Regions from separate parts of the Homo sapiens genome. Here all the other regions are linked to region 3. The links come from fine-mapping of genetic effects on gene expression. A gene starts in region 3. Each other region holds a variant in brackets. All regions are shown on one strand. Distances are from middle to middle.

Region 1 (5,155 bases), 47 kb after region 3:
AGATTTCTCAATTAGCTAATTATTAACCTAAAGAGACTAAATCATAAAAATGAAGCAAAGGGACAGGAAAACGACCTATGCCATTTTTCTCATACTCCAATGGCAAAGTTATTGAAAGTTGTTAACTATGTATTATCCATGAAAGAATATCGTTGGGGCATAGTTCTTAAAAGATCCAATTGCTTTATTACTGAGCTACTTTCTGATTTTCTACTAATTTTGAATATTCACTCGCTTTTTTGGTGTGAGTTAAATTATAATCACAACTCCTTTTCCACTTTCAATTTGATTGAACTTTTTGTTTCATTTTCTAGTTTGGTGAGGATTCATCAACCTCCAGTATGATGTCTGTGAACTTTGATGTTCAATCAAATCAGAGTGATATCAATGATTCGGTCAAGTCTTCTCCCGTAGCCCATTCTATTCTCTGGATTTGGGGCAGGGACTCTGATGCATATAGGGTAAGTTAATAGAGGATGACGAAGCAGTTTTCTCAAACTGGCAAGATCCATTAAAGCAGTGGCCCTCAACCTCACTGATTAATATGGCCTCTATGACTGTTCAGATTAGTTCAGCAAACGTGTAGTACATTTCTATTAAATGGAAGCTATTCTGCTAGGTAGTGAATGAGTAAGATGCAATTTCTGCCTTGAGTTTTTCCCAGTCAAGTAGAGCAGATAGACACCCTGATTTCAGTTCAAAGCTTTATCCTCTGAGTATTATTACCAACCTTAACAAGTTTCTAAACTTGACCCAAGCGTATGTTTTTATATACTTCACTTAATCGGCATTCTTTTATTGAACTCCCACCTGTGTGCCAGGCTAATGCTGGCAGTATAATAGATAAGCCCCCTTGCTCTTCTGGAGCCTACATTCTGGTAGATGATACAGACAATAAACAAGTTAGTACATGTGCCTGTCTAGACTAGCTAAGAAAGAATTGTAGGTTAGCTGAGGCGGATACCAAGGTATGAGGACAGAGACTGTGTGCTTTTTATTCACCATTAAATTTTCAGAATTTAATCAAGGGTTTAACAGAATTAAACAGCCACTTAGATTTAATTATATTTAATATAAATCCCTCAAAGTTTGATAGCTTGAAGATTTAAGTTTAGTAAGCCTCTGGTACATCTTATTTATTTTTAGAGAAAATTAACATTTTACAAATCATAAAACAATTGTTAAACTTTGGCATTGGCAAAGAAAAGACCTTAGTTCAGGGAAAAGTAGTGTTCAATGCCAGGTTTTATAGGCTTATGTATGCTTTCAGGTACAAGTCATAAGCTCCACCTCAAATTAAATACAAAGAAAATGTGCCTGTTACTACAGGAAGTCCAGAAATAGGATAAACTTCAGGTTTGGTTGATTCAGTGGCCCAGTGATGTCATCAGTGACCCATTTCTTCTTTTTCTTTTTTTTTTTTTTTTTCTTCACTCTGCCATCCACAGTATTGGTTTCATCCAAAAGCTTGGTTTTTTTCATGGTCATGACAGCCAGCAGCAACTGGAACAACATGATTTTTTGTTCATATGTAACGTAAGAGCCTAAGACTTGCTTCTCTTTCCGAAAAGCCCCAAGCAAGCCTCTTCTTGTGTCTCACTGGCTCAACTGGCTTATACCCGCCCAACCCTGAACCAGTCTGTGGTAAAGCAGGTAGAATTACTGACTTAGATTAATAATCTGCAGTAGCAGGAATATTATAGAGTCTACCATAATCTTAAGATATTATAGTTTTGTTCAATTATTGTAGTATATCATTTTAAAAGTTTATTTAGCATATTGAAATATTGAATCCAAAGAAATTTATGAGAAATTTTGTTTCTTTATCAGGACAAACAGCATATTCTATGGCCTAAAAGAGCAGATTGTACAGAAAGCTACCCTAGAGTCCCTGTTGGTGGGGAATTGCCAACGTATTTTCTGCCTCCGGAAAACAAAGGACTCAGGCAAGTGGTGATGGATTTGGCAAAGCACCTGATTCTGCATGATTGTCATCTAGCGGTTCTTTGAGAGCACCAGCCTTGGACTTGAAAA[G/A]TTAAGTCTTTATCTTGAAGTCACCCAAACTTTGAAAATATGAATCTTGTTCCTTTTTCTTGTGCCAGGATCCACGAACTCAGCAGTGATGATTATTCTACAGAAGAAGAGGCCCAAACCCCTGACTGTTCCATAACTGACTTCAGAAAAAGCCACACTCTGTCCTACTTAGTCAAAGAATTAGAGGTTCGCATGGATCTGAAAGCCAAAATGCCAGATGACCATGCACGAAAAGTAAGGCTCACTTAGGCTGGTATTTATTGCCGTCCATTCTGGGTGACTTCAGAAGCCTCTTAAATGGAACAAAAAATTGATAGAAGGTAGCTGTTGAGCTTTAAGTGTATAAAATGGAAGGATAGAGTTAAAGAATTGGTGAAATGATGGCGAAGTCAGTCATGCTATTAAAGGAGTGCCAGAGAGTTCCTCGGGGCTGCTATACGTAGATCACCTAAACACTATTCCTCTAACGCAGAGCACTTCAAAGATGAGTAGCACAGAACTCTCTGTTATCTAATGGAGTTGGTGTAATGCAGGCCATTGCAACCACTAAAAGTTAGCTTTGCATCCTCCAGGCCTCCAGAAGTGTATATAAATTGAAAGCTTGAAGAATCTCTCTCTGGCCTTATCAACCCTGCTGTGACCTTATATGAGGTCCATAGGAATTTATATTAATTTGATAATGACTCTGCAAACATTAGAAGTTCAATTATGCTCTTTTCCTAAATTCCTATTAATTATATATAACTACGAGTGTTTTATTACTGTATATTACCATATTAGATATCATTCCATAGATAAAAATGAAAAAAAAAATTACCTTTTTAGCAATCACAGACCATCACAACCACCTTTTTTTTTTTAAGTTAATTTCAAAACTATAGGCACTTACTGTTACTTATATTCAATAGACATTTCCTTAGGCAAAAAACATTATGTGCCAGACATTGTTTTGGATGCTAGGAATACAAAAAGATAAACAGACCATGATCTGTGCCTTAGAGTTGTTTACCGTTATATAAATGCTGCAGGAACATGAAGTAGAATAATTGAGTATCTGGTATTTTCCAGGAAGGAAAGACAGTAGATTTTTATTACATCAGATATTGCATGCTGTTGTCTTTTGAATAATTTCTTCTTGGGTTCTGAACACTTAGGCTGACTTTAATGGGGTATGGTAGGTTACTTTAATGTGTGGGGGTATATATGTCTTTTTAACTTTTTAGTTAAACTATTACATACATGTGAGCAGGTCAACACCTGTTGGTATGTGAATGAATTTATGTCATATATATGATCATAAATATTTGTTCAAATTAGCTGTTCCTGAGGAGCTTAAGAAAAGACTGCCATCTATAGAAATTCTTTTCAAATGTCTTCCCTGTTATTTTCAATTGAGTCAGTCTTCCTTTTGATGTTTCAGATTTTGCTTTCCCGTATTAATAACTATACTATCCCAGAAGAAGAAATTGGGTCTTTCTTATTTCATGCTATTAATAAGGTGAGTCATTTACTTTAGACATCTAAAACTTAAATGCTTCTTAATTATAAGTAAAAGTTAAAATGCACTTATTAAAAATCTTATTTAGAACAAGTACTGTATTCTTGTACTAACTGAAGTATTTTTGGATTTTTCAGCCAAATGCTCCTATCTGGCTCATACTCAATGAAGCTGGACTATACTGGAGAGCAGTAGGAAATAGCACTTTTGCTATTGCCTGTCTTCAGAGGGCTTTGAATTTAGCTCCACTTCAATACCAAGATGTTCCTCTTGTCAACTTGGCCAACCTTTTGATTCATTACGGCCTTCATCTTGATGCCACTAAGCTGCTACTTCAAGCTTTGGCCATCAATAGCTCTGAGGTGAGGTTTTAAGGGATTTCATAGTTCCGTATACTATGTAGGGTAACTCAAATTTAGATTACAATTTGTATTTTTCTAGGGAAAGCATAAAAAATGTCATGTTTTGTCTTTCACAGTAGCGTTTGCATTATTTCAAGAGAGTGTGAAAAAGCTTTTGTTGTATTTTGATGTGTTCTTTAAATTTTGAGTGAAATTTATAATTACACAGTTAAGTTTTTTTTTTTTTGGAAACTTACATTTAAATAAGAATAACATAAGCTGTAAAAATATACTGCCGCTTTTTTATGTCTGTCTGAAACATCTGGTTTGTATTTTATCCTACTCATCACAGCATGCACACTGCTTAATATTACACTGTTTTACAACTTTAATTTATAGAAATATTTATACCCTTCAAGCCAGAGGACAGTTCAAAGGTGGTTTTGATAAGAATAAATAGATACATTGATTTTCATGCCCCAAACCTCTCACATGCAGCTTATGGAGTTACATCAGTGCTTTGTAGTTCATGGTTTTGAAGATACAACTTTGGTTTTTCATATTTTAACATCTCTGATATCAGGATGGATGTTATAATTGCTGTCATTTTAGGTTTCATGAAATTCAGTTATAATAAATATACAATTAAATTGATTTTATACCTAATGTCTAAATGTTTATAGGTTTTGTATTCAAAGAAACCTTCAGAAGGGATGTGCATGAATGGTTGAGGTTTATTTATGGTGTCTGAAAACTGATTTTTTAAGGATGAGAAGAAAATATTGCCTGTTTTCTTTTGAAATACAGAAATTCACAACTGGATTTTAAGCAGAAGTTTACAATCTCAATATTATGTAACAGGTCACATTGCCAGAGAAGTACATCAAATATTTATCTAGTGCTTACTGTGTACCAGGTGCTGGTACAGTGGGAACAGATGTGATAAAGTGGGCAATGGAAAGCGCAATGCAGCCGTATTCCCTTGAAACTTTTCATGATTCCCTTTTTACTGTTTTCAGCCAAGGGACTTAGGTAGTATTCTTCTGAAGAAAAAAGACCTCCTTTAGTGATCAGTTACCTTTTGATATTTTAAAATCATACTAAAATTTTAGTTGTTAAATACCATGGTGCTACAATAAGAATAAAAAGATAAATTAATGGATCAGGGTGGGTACCCCAAAAATATACCTTTTTTTTTTCTTTGAGACAGGTTCTTGCTCTGTTGCCCAGGCTGGAGTGCAGTGGCGTGGTCACGGCTCACTGCAGCCTCCACCTCCTAGGC
Region 2 (5,155 bases), 110 kb after region 3:
ATATCTAAAATTCATGGTAGCAATAACTTAAATGATGAGAGGGAAGCAAATAGAGTTTAAAAGTCCTAAGGCTTAATTGGTATCAGCCAAGTAGTAAAAGTAATAATTTGCATTGGCCTTAATAAGTAAAAAAGCATGTTTTAAACTCTAGGCTAACAACTAAAAATTATTTTTAAATGTAACTTAATAGAAGGAAAATGGAATCATGTAGAACATTTGATTAATCCAAAGGAAGTCAAGGGAAGATAAAGGTACATAAAAGTAGAGCACAAATAGTACAATGGCGAATATAGACCCAAGCACATCAGTAGTTACATGGAGGAAGACTGTGTAACTTAAGAATTAAATGTAGGCTAGATTAAAAAAAAAAAAAAAACGGCTATATAACTATACCCTTGTCAGAAAAAGTAAACTTTATAATAAGAAGCATTACTGGAGTTAAAGTGGAATATTTTATAACACTAAAGGGATCTGTGGCAGGCTGAATAGTGCCCCCCTACAAAGATATCCACGTTCTAATCCCTGGAACCTGTGAAAACTATATACATACACAGTATGGAAAGAAGAGGACTTTGCAGATAAAATTGAGGATCTGGAGATGGAGCGATTATCCTGGATTATCCAGTTGGGTCCTAAAGCCAATCACATGTATTCTTATAAAGAAGGAGACAGAGACTTAATCCTGAAGAGTAGAAGGCTGTGTGACAATAGAGGCAGAGTTATGCAGCCACAAGCCAAGGAATGCCAGCAGCCACGAGAAACCAGAAGAGGGAAGTAACAGATTCTCTAGATCCTCTGAAGGGAGCACAGCCCTGCTGACACATTGACTTTGACCCAATGATATTGATTTTGGACCTCCTGCCTTAAGAGCTGTGAAGGAATAGATTTTTATTGTTTTAAACCACCAAGTATGTGTTAATTTGTCACAGTAGCTATAGGAAAGTAATATAGATTTAATTCACAAGGTAGGTATGTTCTGTAAACTGTATGCACCAAAGAACATAATCTAAAATATATAAGGTAAACATTGACATAACTGGCAGAAGAAATAGACATATTCCCAATCAAAGTAGATTTGAATAAAATTATAATAACTGATAGCAGTTATTATTGTAGCAGACCAAAAACACCACAATTACAAACTGAACCTAGCTGCCATATGTAAGCACTGAATCCAGCAGTGACAAAATTCTTTTTTTTTTTTGAGACAGAGTCTCACTCTATTGCCCAGGCTGAAGTGCAGTGGTGCTATCTTGGCTCACTGCAACCTCTGCCTCCCAGGTTCAAGTGATTCTCCTGCCTCAGCCTCCCAAGTAGCTGGGACTACAGGCGTGCGCCACCACACCCAGGAATTTTTGTATGTTTTAATAGAGACGGGGTTTCACCATATTGGCCAGGCTGGTCTCAAACTCCTGACCTCATGATCCACCCGCCTCAGCCTCACAAATTGCTGGGATTACAGCTGTAAGCCACCGTGCCCGGCCCAAAATTCATTCTTTTACATGCACAAGGAAGGAACATTTATCATATGTGAACACTTAACATATGACTGAGCCATAAAAAAGGCCTTAACAAATTTCCAAAGATTTAAATTTCTTAGCATGGAAATGGATATTGACCAATACAGATTAAGCCAGAAATCATACAAAATAAAAATAGCTTACAAAATAAAAATAGCATACAAAATAAAAATATCATACAAAAATAAATAGCTTTCATATATACAATTTAAAAAAACAGAAGTTGTAAGAGAATTTTAAAAGAAAATACCTTAGGCAATTTTTTTTTTAATCTCCAAAATTTAAAACTCTTCTGAAAAATACAAAACTAGGCTTGAACAAATGGAAAGACTTAACCATGTTCTTGCATGTGAAGTCTCAGCATCATATAATATCAGTTCTCTTAAGTTAGTTTGTCATTTTAATGCAATAACAATAAAAATGCCATGTTATTTTCTGGTGCCAGGCAAGCTATTAATAATTGTTTAAGTTTATCTCAAAGAAGAAACAATCAAGAATAATTAGAGAAACTGAAAAAAAGAACAGTGGGAGAAGAGGAGGATTTAACCTAGAAGACATTAAACATACATGAAGCCTTTAATTAATGTAGTTTGATATTGCTGCATGAATGCACAAACCAATGGGAAAGAATAAAAGACTAATTGCATATGGCAATTTCGAATACTGTAAAGGCAGCATCTCATCAGTGAAAGGAAATGTATGTTTTAATGCTAAATAGGGGAAAAGATAAAATTATATCCATTCCACGGGGCGTGGTGGCTCCTGCCTATAATCCCAGCACTTTGGGAGGCTGAGGCGGGTGGATCACCTGAGGTCAGGAGTTCAAGACCAGCCTGGCCAACATGATGAAACTCCATCTGTACTAAAAATACAAAAAAAAATTAGCTGGGCGTGGTGGTGCACGCCTGTAATGCCGGGTACTCGGGAGGGTGGGGCAGAAGAATCGCTTGAACCTGGGAGGCAGAGGTTGCAGTGAGCTGAGATCATGCTGCTGCACTCCAGCTTGGGCGATAGAGTGAGACTCCATCTCAAAAAAAAAAAAAAAATTACATCCATTCCTTCTACTACACACCAAGATAAATTTTAAGTGGATCAGAGATTAAAATAAATGTAACAAAATGACTTCATACAAGTACAAATAAAATGCATGGGAATTTCCCTGTAACTTGGATGTAGGGAAAATTTCCTAATAGACTCAAAATTCATACACACTAAGGAAAAAGATGAATAACTAACTTTTTTT[A/T]AAAAAACTTGCATTTCAAACAGGCGCAATGAACAAAATGAAAAGCTGGGAACAGTATTTTCAAATTATATTACAGATAAAGGGATTTTAAACCTAATTTCTAAGGAGCTTTTACAGGGAAGGAAGAAGGTCAACAATCTTAGAAAAATGGACTAGATGCAGCAGAAAAGAAAATGAAAGCAGAAAATTATGGAAAATTGTCAAACGGAATTATAAAGAGGAAAAAAATGGAAATGCAAGCTTTTTTTTTTAAAGAGAGAATGATCTGCTACAATACAGGAGGCTGATCTGGGCAGAGAAACCAACAGCCTTTAAAAGTCATGCAGGGCTAGAGAAATAAGATTGGATACTAGAAAGGCTAAGGTCCTGCTGAGAAGGGAAGGACAGAGATGTGAGCCTAGTACCCTTCACAATACATTGGCAAATTCTGAAGCTACAAAGCACAAGAGACCAGAAAGCCAAGTAGAAAGCTATGAAAAACCATTTTTAGGAAGCTAGTATTAGAGTTCAAGACCCAGCAGTGAGGACAAGAGGCTTTTGGTGACTGTCTGGGGATTTCATTTGGAAAGTCTGGAGATTGGTGCCTTTTAAGAAGGGACAAAACTAAGGGTAAGTGAACTTTGGTTCTAGGAATGGCAAGACCAGCAAGAAGATCACCATTGCCAACTGTAGCCTTTACACAATGTCATAGCAGCCCAAATTCAGTCAGCTATTGAATTAAGTTTATTGTCTACTTGCCAAGCTAAAGAATGTATGAATGCTGTCTTTAGAAGATAACATCATATGGAGGTTCTACAACTTCTTAGACACAATGTCAAGCTTTTAGTAAAATTATACTAGACATTCAAGAGATGGGATTGAAAACCAAGAGAAAGGGCAGACAATAGAAATATACTCACAGATGATTCAGGCAGTGGAGTTAAGACCAGGACTTGAAATAACAATGATAATTGTTCAAGAAAATAGAAGACAGGGAGAAAATAAATAAAAGGGAAATTTCCCCCCAGATAATTGGAACTTGTGGGGGATAAAAAGAATCAAATGGATATTCTAGAGCTGAGAATTGCAATAACTGAAATTAAGAACTCAATTGATGGGTATAAAATCAAATTAGACAATGGCGAGCCCAAAAATAAACCCTCATGTATATAATCAAATAATTTTCCACACGGGTACCAAGACCATTCAATGGGGAAAAGATGGTCTCTTCAAAAAGTGGTGTTAGGGAAACTGTATATTCATATGCAAAAGAATGAAGTTGGACCCTTACCTTATATCATAGGCAAAAGTTAACTCAAAATGGTCCAAAGACCTAAGTGTAAGACCTAAAACTGTACAACTCTTGGAAGAAAACAGAGGAAAAAAGCATTAAGACAATATATGTATTTCTTGGATATGACACCAAAAGCACAGGCAACAAATGTAAAAATAGACAAAGTGGACTATATTAAAGTTTAAAACTTCTGGGCATCAGAGGACACAATTAACAGAGTGAAAAGACAGCCTACAGACTAGGAGAAAATATTTGCAAGTCATACATCTAATAAAGGGTTAATATTTCCAAATTATATAAACAACTTGTACAAATTAAAAACAAAATAACCCAATTAAAAAATATACAAAGGACTTGAATGGTCATTTCTCCAAAGATGATATGCAAACAGCCAACAAGCATATGCAAATATGCTCAATACCACAAATCATCAGGAAAATGCAAATCAAACCACAACGAGATATCATGTCACACCAATTAGGATGGCCACTATTAAAAACATAAAATTAATAAGCATTGGCAAGGATGTAGAAATTAGAACACCTGTGCACTGTTGGTGGGAATATAAAATGATGCAGCTGGCTTTGCAGACACTGCTGTCCCCCAACACCCCCTGTCACTAGGCCATGGTCATCCCGACTGTGCCCTTCAACATCACCATCAACAGCAAGCCCTTAGGACACATCTCCTTTCAGCTATTTGCAGACAAATTTCCAAAGACAGGAGAAAACTTTCACACTCTGAACAATAAAGACAAAGGATTTGGTTCCTGCTTTCACAGAATTATTCCGGAGTTTATATGCCAGGGTGATGACTTCACACCCCATAATGGCATTGGTGGCAAGTCCATCTACGGGGATAAATTTGATGATAAGAACTTTATTGTGAAGCATACAGGTCTTGGCATCTTGTCCATGGCAAATGCTGCACCCAAAACAAATGAGTCCCAGTTTTTCATCTGCACTGCCATGGCCAAATGGTGGGATGGCAAGCATGTGATCTTTGGCAGGGTGAAAGAGGGCATGAATATTGTGGAAGCCATGGAATGCTTTGGGTCCAGGAATGGCAAGACAAGCAAGATCGCCATTGCCAACTGCAGACAACTCTGATAAATTTGAC
Region 3 (5,155 bases):
GTCACACCACAGCAGAAGACTTTTGCCCCAAGGAAACTGTCAGATAATGTGTTAAGCTAAGTTTGTGGCAATTGTTACACAGCATTAGAAAACTAATACAGGATCCCAAAAGATAAGAGTTATCATCTACAGAAAATAGGTGGTATAATAAAGCTATAGAAGCTATAATTCCACCCCTTTAGAGGTTAACTTGTGAAGGTCAAAGAAATTGCTGATAGCAAAATATGTGATGCTGGGGCCTTTCTCAAATTCCTCACTAACATTCATTCATTCTCAGGCTCTCAGATCTAGAGTCAGGTGGATCTGAGTCCAAACCTGAGCTCTACCACTTAGCAATATGATCTTGGCCAACTTACTTAACTAGCCAGAGCTTGGTAAGTTGTGACGATTAATAGGAACTATGCATGTACAGGACCCAGTACGTATTAAACACTCAAGAAATGTTAGATGATGATGATGTCAGCTTTATACACAAGAAATAGGGTTGACCTCTATGCCCCAAAAATAAGATGCTGAGACAAAAGGGATTCCATCATTTGCCACTTCTCTATTTTAAAATTCTGAAACACTCCCTATTGCCTATGTCTAAACTCCAAGAAACTCTTAAAACATGCCACTGACTTCACCTTTTCGTTTCTTGAGACGGATTCTCGCTCTGTCACTTAGGCTGGAGTGCAGTGGTGTGATCTCGGCTCACTGCAATCCCCGCCTCCCGTGTTCAAGCAATTCTCTGCCTCAGCCTCCCAAGTAGCTGGAATTACAGGTGCCCGCCACCATGCCCGGCTGATTTTTGTATTTTTAGTAGAGGCGGGGTTTCACCATCTTGGCCAGGCCAGTCTTGAACTCCTGACCTCAGTGATCCATCCACCTCGGCCTCCCAAAGTGCTGGGATTACAGGCGTGAGCCACCGCGCCCGGCCAACTTCACCTTTTCACTTATTATTCTGCCTGAACCAGCACCTGAGCTCCAAACCTTTTTTTCACCTGGTTGGTTGCTCTCTCCTGTACATATGCATTCATACACCCCCATTATCCTGTATTTTAATTGTTAACCTGCCAATAATATCTCACTATATTGCACACTGCCCAATGGTTACATTTCCATACCCAGAGACTATCAGAGTACCAGGCAAAAAGCAAATAAGCCATATATTTTTAATGAAATGAATGTTCAGTCTTCAGGCCTTTAAGAAAAGCTGTTCCTGGAATGAAGAAAAAAAAAACACCAATGCTGTGGTTGTTTCTACATTTCTATAGCGTGGTGTTTAAACACTTAGCAACTGCTCTCCTGCATACACTTGTGTAGAGAAGTGGTTAAACAATATTCTCATCCTTCTTTTCCCAAGGAGAAAACCAAAAGCATACCAACCTTAAATAACACACACAGAGGGCAATCTTGAAAGACCTAAAATGACATATCTAGCAAGAAGCTGGCAGCCAAGCTTGACGCCTGCCTGCCTGCCTGTTGGTTCACTAGAAGAAAGTGGTTCTCAAACTTTAATATGTATACCAGTCACCTGAGGCTATTGTTAAAATGTAGTCTGATTCAGCAGGTTGCGGGGGAGAGGGAGAAGAGCCGAGAATGTGCAGGTCTAAAAAGCTCCCAGGTGATGCCAATGTTTCTGGTCTCCAGACCTAGACCTCTAGCTTAGACCTGTGCTGACCAGTACGTTAGCCACATGCGGGTATTAAGCCCCTGAAATATGACTAGATAAGCTGTCAGTGTAACATGCCGATTTCCAAGACTTAGTTAAAAAAAAAAAAACTAAACTATCTCAATGATTTGTACAGACCACATTGAATTAATATTTTGTGTACTTTGAGTTAAATAAAATGTACTAGTAGGGTTACTTCCCTCTATATTTTACATTCCACACGTGGCTCGCATTATAGTGCTACTGGACAGCGGTGCCCTAAACTAACAACCGTCTCCATTCTGAAGCTTCCACTATTGTGAGACTTTAAGAATAAAAGCAACACCTCTCTTCCCATAGGTGGTTCGAAAGCACACCTTTTGTTCCCCAACTATCTACCAGAAATAAAACGAAAAAACAAAGATTTAAAAAACAATAAAATTGAGTCCTTTCACTTCTGCTTAAGCGCCACCTAAGCCACTGCTTTTGTCTCCCTCCGGTTCCCACGCTCCGAGATCGTATCACCCACAGAAAAACAATAACTAAAAAGCGGTCTCCATCCCTGAAGCCAAGCTGGGAGAGTAGCCGAAGGTCGCGCTTCCTGGCCGCCAAAACCGAGGTGGAGGAAACTTGGTAGTCAGCGAGCTACGCCCTCTCGGCTCCTCCTCCTGCTCCTCCTCCAGGGCCGACCTCTTCAAGATGGCGGGCGCCGGAGACTAGCTTCCGCTTCCGGTGTGAGCGGCCCGGCCGGGGGGGCAAGATGGCGGCGGCAGTAGGGGTTCGTGGCCGGTACGAGCTGCCGCCTTGCTCCGGCCCAGGCTGGCTCCTCAGCCTTTCCGCCTTGCTGAGTGTGGCGGCACGAGGGGCCTTCGCCACCACGCACTGGGTCGTCACGGAGGACGGGAAAATCCAGCAGCAGGTAGCGGCCGGGGCGTCCCTCTTCTCCCGTGCCCGCCCTCGCCCCGGGGGGATTACCCTGCTTGGCCCCTGGCTGTTGGGCTCCGCGCGGCCCCGCCCCCAGCCTACCCTCACAGGGAGGTGGCACCGCGACCTCGGACTCCCTGCATTCGGACCAGGCAGGCACTTCCCGCTCCCCACTTGTCTCCTGGTCCTCGTTTGGCCCCCTAGAAGTTCTCACCCTTCCACCTCGCGGGCCGCGCGCCGCGTGGGGAAGAGTCGCCCAGCTGCGGGAGACGGGCCCTACGGACCTTTTTTTAGCTCGGGGTTTAGAAATCACAGATTTCAGGATTCCTGCCTTTGGTGCCTCTCGGGTTCACGCGTCACCGGCCCTCCCCGAGGAAATAGAAAGCAGGTGGCAGCTCCAGGGTGTGCGCGAGTCCCATGGTATGACAGCTTCTGGACCCCTAGCCTGTGGACCATTCGTGCTGCTCCCCTAGTCTCGTCTACCACATGGTGGATTTCGTTTCTGGTTGTGTTGGTTTCAGCTTGTACCGTTACTCAGGTCAGCAGTGGCTCATTAGAAACAACATAGAAACACTCCCCTTCAGAAGGAATGCTTGAAGATGCCGCTGGTGGCGTTGCCTGCATCTTTTCAGCTGTTACTGCCCTCGTTTCCCAGTGCACTTTGCTTTGTTTCTTTACCTAGTTCTTGTGACCCAGCCTCGCATGGAGGATATGCGATTTCCTGGATTCTTGTATGCCTGAACTAATTCCTCAGAGGCGAGACTGCTTTTCTTATATAACTTTATGATTGCCTGCGTTTTGTAAATGCTGCTGATGCCTAACGAGTGCGTGTGTGTGTTCCGCTACAGAATATTGGTAAACTTACTGACTTCGAACACTTGAGGACAATCTTGAAGTGTCTAGCAAACATTTAGAAAGTGAATTGTGTGCCCCATGCAATTTAGCCCACTGATCTAAAACGTTTTAACTAGTGTGGTGGGAAATTACTGGTCCTTTGGATTGTGTGTAATGAATCATGATAGGAACACATTCCAACGTTTAAGGTGAGGTTTAGATTTAGATTTGCCGTGTAATGTAATTGCAAATTCTATCTCAAGTAAGTTAAGTATAACTAAAAATCCGCCTAGGTATTCATGAGTGGTTTTCAGCATATCTAAGAAAAGACCGTGTTCCTATTGGGTAACGTTTTCTATATGACATACATAAAGAACAGTTTCCTTTTCATTGCCATACTATCTGAGACTTTAAATATATGTGTATGTGTTTCAGAAACCCAAGAAAACACTGTAAGACCATATGTGAGTGCTGGTTGCTTCCACCCTTCTTTTGTTTCTTGATAGTGGTTTTCCCTGAGGTCTCTATGAAGACGTGGAATTAAGTCACTCCTGCTGCATTTTGGGGAGCCTTTCTCCTGTTGGCTCTTCTGCAATATTGTTTTTGGCCACAGCTATTTATACTCTATGACATTGACTTCTCCTTCCCATTTTGGTGTCCTACCACTCAGCTGAAAAAGTAGCCCATCTAAAAAGTGAAAGCTGGTAGAAATGTTTTATGTATATACTTAACATTGCAATGGGAAAGTAGAGTCTGATTTTTTTTTTTTTTTTAACAAATTCCTTCTTTTTGCACTTTGGATACATATGTATTAATGGGGGAAGGCAGGGGTTACTGGAAACTTGCCTCAGAGAAGCAGGGAAGAGCTGAAGAATCTTTTGGATCTCTGCCAAGTCACTGCTGAGCTAAGTAATTAGGCTTAAAGTTTAAAAAGCAAGATTTCTCTATTACATGACTTTTTAAGTGATCCTTTTCATTGAATTTTCCAATACTTTGCTATACATAACATTTACAATGTTATGTTCAGGCAGCCACAAGATTTTATGCCAGAAGAAATAAGGTTGGTGTCTGCAGTGTAACAATAAGAGGCCAGGGGAGGAAAGTTGGATTTAATCTGAAGAAAAGGCACCACATATAAATAAAGTAAAAGAATTGGGTGCTGTGGTGAGCTGCCGAGTTCCACTCTGATAGCTGATTGTGCATGACCCATGCTTCCCTTCCTGGCCATAATTTGTATGCAGGTAGAATCCAAACTATCAATTTAGATCGTGATTAATTATAATATTTGTATATACTGTACTTAAGGACTTGAAAGATCACATTAGTGTATGAAATCCATATATATTGCAGATTTGTACATTCAGAAACATAATTAAAAGCTTAGTATATACAGATGCTCCTCAGCTTATGAAGGGGTTATGTGCTGATAAACTCATTGTAAGTCGAAAATACTGTAAGTCAAAAATGCATTTAATGTACCTACCAAACATTGTAGCTTAGCCTAACCTACCTTAAACGTGCTCACAATACTTACATTAGCCAAATTTGGGCAAAATCATCTAACAGCATCTTTTACAATAAAGTATCAAAATACCTCATGTAATTCATGAATACTTCACTGAAAGTGAAAAACAGAATGGTTATATGGGCACTCAGTACAGTTGCTACCAAATGCATGTCACTTTTGCAGCATTGTAAAGTCAAGAAATTATAAGTTGAACCATCGAAAGGTGGGGACCATCTGTATACTTTGTCCTGACATAC
Region 4 (5,155 bases), 120 kb after region 3:
GAAAAGAAATACCAGGTACAAACTAATAAAAAGGAGGTAGTAGGCATAGTTATATTAATTACCTGAAAAACATATATTTCAAAACAATAATTATTAGGAGTAGAGAGAATGACTACATAATGATAAAATGTTTCATTCACCAGAAAGATATACCAGTTCTAAACTTACACATATTCAGTAAAATACCCTCAAAATATGTAAAGCAAACAAAAGAAAGATAGATGTACAGTTAGAAATTGCAAATCTGTCAACATAAACACTCTTCTCCATTATGCATAAGTCAGTCAGTTTGTACCTGTGTTTATGTTCATGAGGGATATTGGTCTGTGGTTTTTTTTATTATGTTTTTGTGAAGTTTTGGTATCAGGATAATAATGACCTTGTTTAATGAGTTGGAGGTGTTTCCTTCACTTTAGTTTTCTGAAAAAGTCTGTAGAGAATTCCTTAATATTTGATAGAATTTGCCAGTGAAGCCATCTGGTCCTAGAGTTCTCTTTGTGGGAGGTTTTTAATTATAGCTCTAATATCTTTAATAGATCTAGGGCTATTCAAATTATCTCTTTCTTCTCTGGTGATCTTTGGTAATTGTGTCTTTCAAGGGATTTGTTTATTTCATCTAAATTGTTTATTGGCAGAAAGTTCTTCATATTATTTTCTTATCATCCTTTTACTATCTGTAGGATCTGTAGTAATGGACCCTCTCTTAATCCTGATATTGGTACTTTGTATCTTATCTCTTTTTTTCTGATCAGACTCGCTAGAAGTTTATGAATTTTATTGATTTTTTTTGTTGTTGGGGAATAGGGGGACAGAGTCTCGCTCTGTCGCCCAGGCTGGAGTGCAGTGGTGCGATCTCAGCTCAGTGCAGCCTCTGCCTCCTGGGTTCAAGTGATTCTCGTGCCTCAGCCTTCTGAGTAGCTGGGGTTACAGGCTTGCACCACCATGCCTGGCTAATTTTTGTATTTTTAGTAGAGATGAGGTTTCACCATGTTGCCCAGGTCAGTCTCAAACTCCTGAGCTCCAGTGATCCACCCACCTCGGCCTCCCAAAGTGCTGGGATTACAGCCACCATGCTTGGCCATTTTATTGATCTTAAATAATCAGTTTGAGGATCCACTGACTTTCCACCATCTTTTTGTTTTCTCTTTCATTTATGTCTGCTCTTATCTTTGTAATTTCCTTGTCTTCCGCTTGCTTAGGATTTAATTTGCTTTTCATTTTTTAGGTTTTTAATAGTTTTTTTTTTTTAGGCTTTTAATATAAGCTTGTATTATTGACTTGATCCCTGTCTTCTTTTCTAATGTAGATGTTCAATGCTAAAAGTTTCCTGTAAATTTATGACAAATTTAACTTGTCATATTTTCATTTTCATTCAATTCAAAGTACTTTATAATTTTCCTTCTAATTTTTTTGACCCATGAGTTATTTAGGAGTATGATATTTAGTTTCCAACTATTTGGGTGTTTTCTAGATATCTTTCTTTAATTGATAGCTAGTTTAACTCCATTGTAGTAAATGAACATACTTTGTATGATTTGAATTCTTTTCAGCTTATTCAAGCTTGTTTTATGGGCCAGAATGTGGCCTATCTTGGTTAATGCTTCATGTGCACTAGAAAGGAATATTGTCTTCTGCTTTTGTTAGGTAGAGCATTTTAGAAATATCAGTTAGGTTAAGCTCCTGATAGTATTGTTTATATTTTCTTTACTGATTTTTCTGGTCTTCTATAAGTTATTGAGAGGCTAATTCAACTATATTAATAATTATGAATTTGCTTGTATCTTATTTTAGTCCTGTAAGTTTTCGATTTGTGTATTTCTAAGTTCTGTTACTAGATGTAGAAATCAATGAAATAGAAAACAAAGATATAATAGAGAAGATGAACAATCCAAAAGTTGTTTCTTTGAAACAAGTAGTAAAATAAACTTTTGGCAAAATTAAGATAAAAAGAAAGTACAAATTCTCAATATCAAGAAAAAGGGCAAAACAAAACTATGGTTATATCAAATTAAGGGATAAGAAAAGCATATAATTGCAACTTTATGCCAATAAATTTGAAAACAGGTAGACAATTTCTTAGAAAAATGTAATGTATTAAACTGATTCAAGAACAAAAAGAAAACCTGAAGAATCTCATAATTCTCAAATAAATTAAGTAGTAAGTTTTTAAAAAATCTTCTCACAAAGATTACAACAAGGTCTGTTGATTTTGCAAGTGTGAATTCTACAAACTTTTGAGAAATACCTCATCCTAATATAAACAGACTTCCAGACATTAGAATAAGGAATGACATACCAGTTAATTCCTTGAGACGGGTATAAACTTTAAAACAAAACCAGACATTATGAGAAAGAAAAATAATATATATTTATATATGTTGTCATATATAATTTTTAAGTTAGCACTAATCTCACTCATGAACTTAGGTATCAAAATCAAAATCATAAGCAAAATGTTAACAGACTGAATCCAGCAGCACATTTCTTTAAAAAGAGATATACCTTGACCAAATTGGGTTTATCCCAGAAATACTGAAAATGGTCTAACTCTAGGAAAACGCAAAATTTGAGTCACCAAATTAAAGGAAAAAAACTATGAAATCATTTCAGTAGATTGCATTTGATACAATTCATACCCATTTATAATGTAAAACTTAGTAAATTCCTTAATGTGGTGAAAATAATCAACAAAACATCTACTTCAAAGATGATTCTTACTGAGGAAATATGAAAAATAATTACTTGAAATCAAGAAAAAGAATGCAGACTATCACCACTTCTTTTCAACCTTGTACTGAAACTCCTAGCAAGTATAGTAAATCAATAAAAAGAAATTAGGCTGGGCGCAGTGGCTCACGCCTGTAATCCCAGCATTTTGGGAGGCCGAAGTGGGCAGATCACTTGAAATCAGGATTTCAGGACCAGCCTGGTCAACACAGTGAAACCTCCTCCCTACTAAAAATGCAAAAATTAGCCAGGCGTGGTGGTGCAGCCCTGTAATCCCAGCTATTCAGGAGGCTGAGGCAGAAGAATCACTTGAACCCAGGAGGCGGAGGTTGCAGTGAGCCGAGATTGTGTCACTGTACTCCAGCCTGGGCGAGAGAGCGAGACTCCATCTCAAAAAAAGAAAGAAA[T/G]AAATTAATGGCATAAGTGTAAAGAAGAAAAAACAAAATGTCATTCAGAGGTGATATGATTATCTGTATAGTAAACCCCAAAGACTCCACAGTTTTTTAGAAATAATATTTTTCTCAAAGTGGCTTCCCGTAAACTCAATAAATAAAAAGTTGCATTTCTGTACAGCAGCACAAAATTTAAAAGTGTAATTTTTAAAAATATACATCGTTATAAAAATATAAAGTTCTCAATAAATCTTACAAAAGTTATCAAGACCTCCGTGCAGCAAGAGATAAAACTTCTATTAAAAACCATTTTAAACAATCTAAATAAATAGATATATAATGTTCATGGATAAGAAGACACATGTTATAAACATGTCAGTTTTCCTCAATTTGATTTATAGAGTCAATGCTATTATAATCAAAGTACCAGCAGGGTTTTTTTATGGCACTTGAAAAGCAGGTCTTTATATGGAAAGGTAAATCATGAAGAATAGACCTGACACTCTTGAAAAGAAAAATAAAGTGAGAGTTGCCTTACTTTTTTGATAAAACAAGACATTATGCTGTTTGCTCAAGCATAAATAAAAATGGCTAGGAAGACTAAATAGGAAGGCCAGAAATAGACTCGAATACAGGGGTCCAACTCCCAGGCCACGGATGGGTACTGGTCTGTGGCCTGTTAGGAATTGGGCTACACAGCAGAAGGTGAGTGGCAGGTGAACTTCATCTCTATTTACAGCCACTCCCCATCGCTCGCATTACTGCCTGAGCTGTACATGCGAGGGATCTAGGTTGCACGGAAGTTCCTTATGAGAATCTAATGCCTGATGATCTGTCACTGTCTCCCATCACTCCCAGATGGGACCATCTAGTTGCAGGAAAACAAGCTCAGGGCTCCCACTGATTCTACATTATGGTGAGTTGTATAATTATTTCACAGTGTAATAATAATAGAAATAAAGTGCACGATAAATGTAATGCACTCGAATCATCCCAAAACCACCCCCTACCCCATCCATGGTAAATTTGTCTTCCATGAAACTGGTCCCTGGTGCCAAAAAGGTTGGGGACCTCTGCTCTAACATACAGAACTGTGATATATTAAAAAAGTAATATTGAAAATTGGTGGGAAGAGAAGGGACTATTCAGGAACTGTACTGGGGCAATTGCTTACTTAATTTCAATCTTCATATCTTACACAAAAATTCAATTCCACATGAATTAAGGGCTCAAGTATCAAAAACAAAATGTTAAAACTTAGAGTAAAATGTAGGAGATGACCTTTCTGGCTATGGAGTAAGGAAAGTTTTCTTCTTAAAGGAGACACAAAATAACTATAAAAGAAAATGTTAATGAATTAAAGTATATTAAAGTTTAATTGTTTTAATTAAAGAAAGGCAGGCCAGGGAGAAAACATGTGCAACACATTTAATCTACAAAAGATTAATATACAAAACATATAAATTGATGAAAAGTAATAAAATAGAAAAATGCATTAAAGATATTAACAGGCATTTCACAGAAGTGATATGTGTGATGAATAAATATGAGAAACAATTCTCAATCTCACTAGTGATCAGGAAATGCAAAGTAATACCACAGGAAGATGCCATTTTCCCCTCACCAACAGTACCTAGGGTTAGGAAGGACATGGATCAAGAGGTCCTTTTAAACAATGTGAATGGGGTTGTATGTTGGCATGGCACCTTTGGGAAACAATTTGGCAATCTCTTGGTTTTTTGTTTTTTTTTTTTTTTTTTTTGAACATATGCATATCCCGTGGCCCAGAAATTCTACTCCTTGGTATCTACTCTAGACTATAACAGGAGACAACCAGGAAGCAATCTAAATGCCCATCTACAGAAAATGGATAAATACCATGTAGTATATTCAACTTAATGAGCATTTAATTGTGCAGCAAGGAAACTGAATAAACACAACATGAATGAATCTTAGAAATATAATGTTGAATAAAAAGCCCCAAGTTTGTCAAGTCTGCATACAATACGCCATAGTCCCCCCCTTATTTGCAGCTT

Alleles and levels. Alleles are on the strand shown, and positions count from the first base shown. SD is a standard deviation of normalised expression in the study named. Not every link is listed here.
For the expression in esophagus muscle of the gene that starts at base 2,359 in region 3, allele G in region 4 goes with a lower level than allele T (small effect, 0.11 SD a copy in GTEx).

Evidence for each region. PIP is the estimated chance that this variant, and not a neighbour inherited with it, causes the effect. A credible set is the group of variants that fine-mapping cannot tell apart.
Region 1: its variant is the best candidate, but not a certain one, in a credible set for the expression of TTC17 in whole blood (INTERVAL, PIP 0.50).
Region 2: its variant is the best candidate, but not a certain one, in a credible set for the expression of TTC17 in whole blood (TOPMed, PIP 0.80).
Region 4: its variant is the best candidate, but not a certain one, in a credible set for the expression of TTC17 in esophagus muscle (GTEx, PIP 0.56).

Annotation. Positions count from the first base shown.
Region 1 is chr11:43,403,684-43,408,838 of GRCh38, forward strand. TTC17 (tetratricopeptide repeat domain 17) reads left to right here. Exons shown (of 24, transcript NM_018259.6): 11 at 315-461; 12 at 1,831-1,946; 13 at 2,103-2,268; 14 at 3,455-3,532; 15 at 3,670-3,894. Among named protein-coding and RNA genes, the nearest start is that of TTC17, 47 kb to the left of the region's middle. The variant G/A (reference allele first, on the strand shown) is at 2,035.
Region 2 is chr11:43,461,730-43,466,884 of GRCh38, forward strand. All of the region lies in intron 21 of TTC17 (tetratricopeptide repeat domain 17), which reads left to right. It also overlaps the pseudogene PPIAP41. Among named protein-coding and RNA genes, the nearest start is that of MIR670, 95 kb to the right of the region's middle. The variant A/T (reference allele first, on the strand shown) is at 2,764.
Region 3 is chr11:43,356,562-43,361,716 of GRCh38, forward strand. It overlaps TTC17 (tetratricopeptide repeat domain 17), which reads left to right and starts at 2,359. Exons shown (of 24, transcript NM_018259.6): 1 at 2,359-2,552. The coding sequence starts at 2,394. RefSeq lists an enhancer at 2,218-2,487 and a silencer at 2,618-2,697.
Region 4 is chr11:43,481,023-43,486,177 of GRCh38, forward strand. All of the region lies in intron 21 of TTC17 (tetratricopeptide repeat domain 17), which reads left to right. Among named protein-coding and RNA genes, the nearest start is that of MIR670, 76 kb to the right of the region's middle. The variant T/G (reference allele first, on the strand shown) is at 3,135.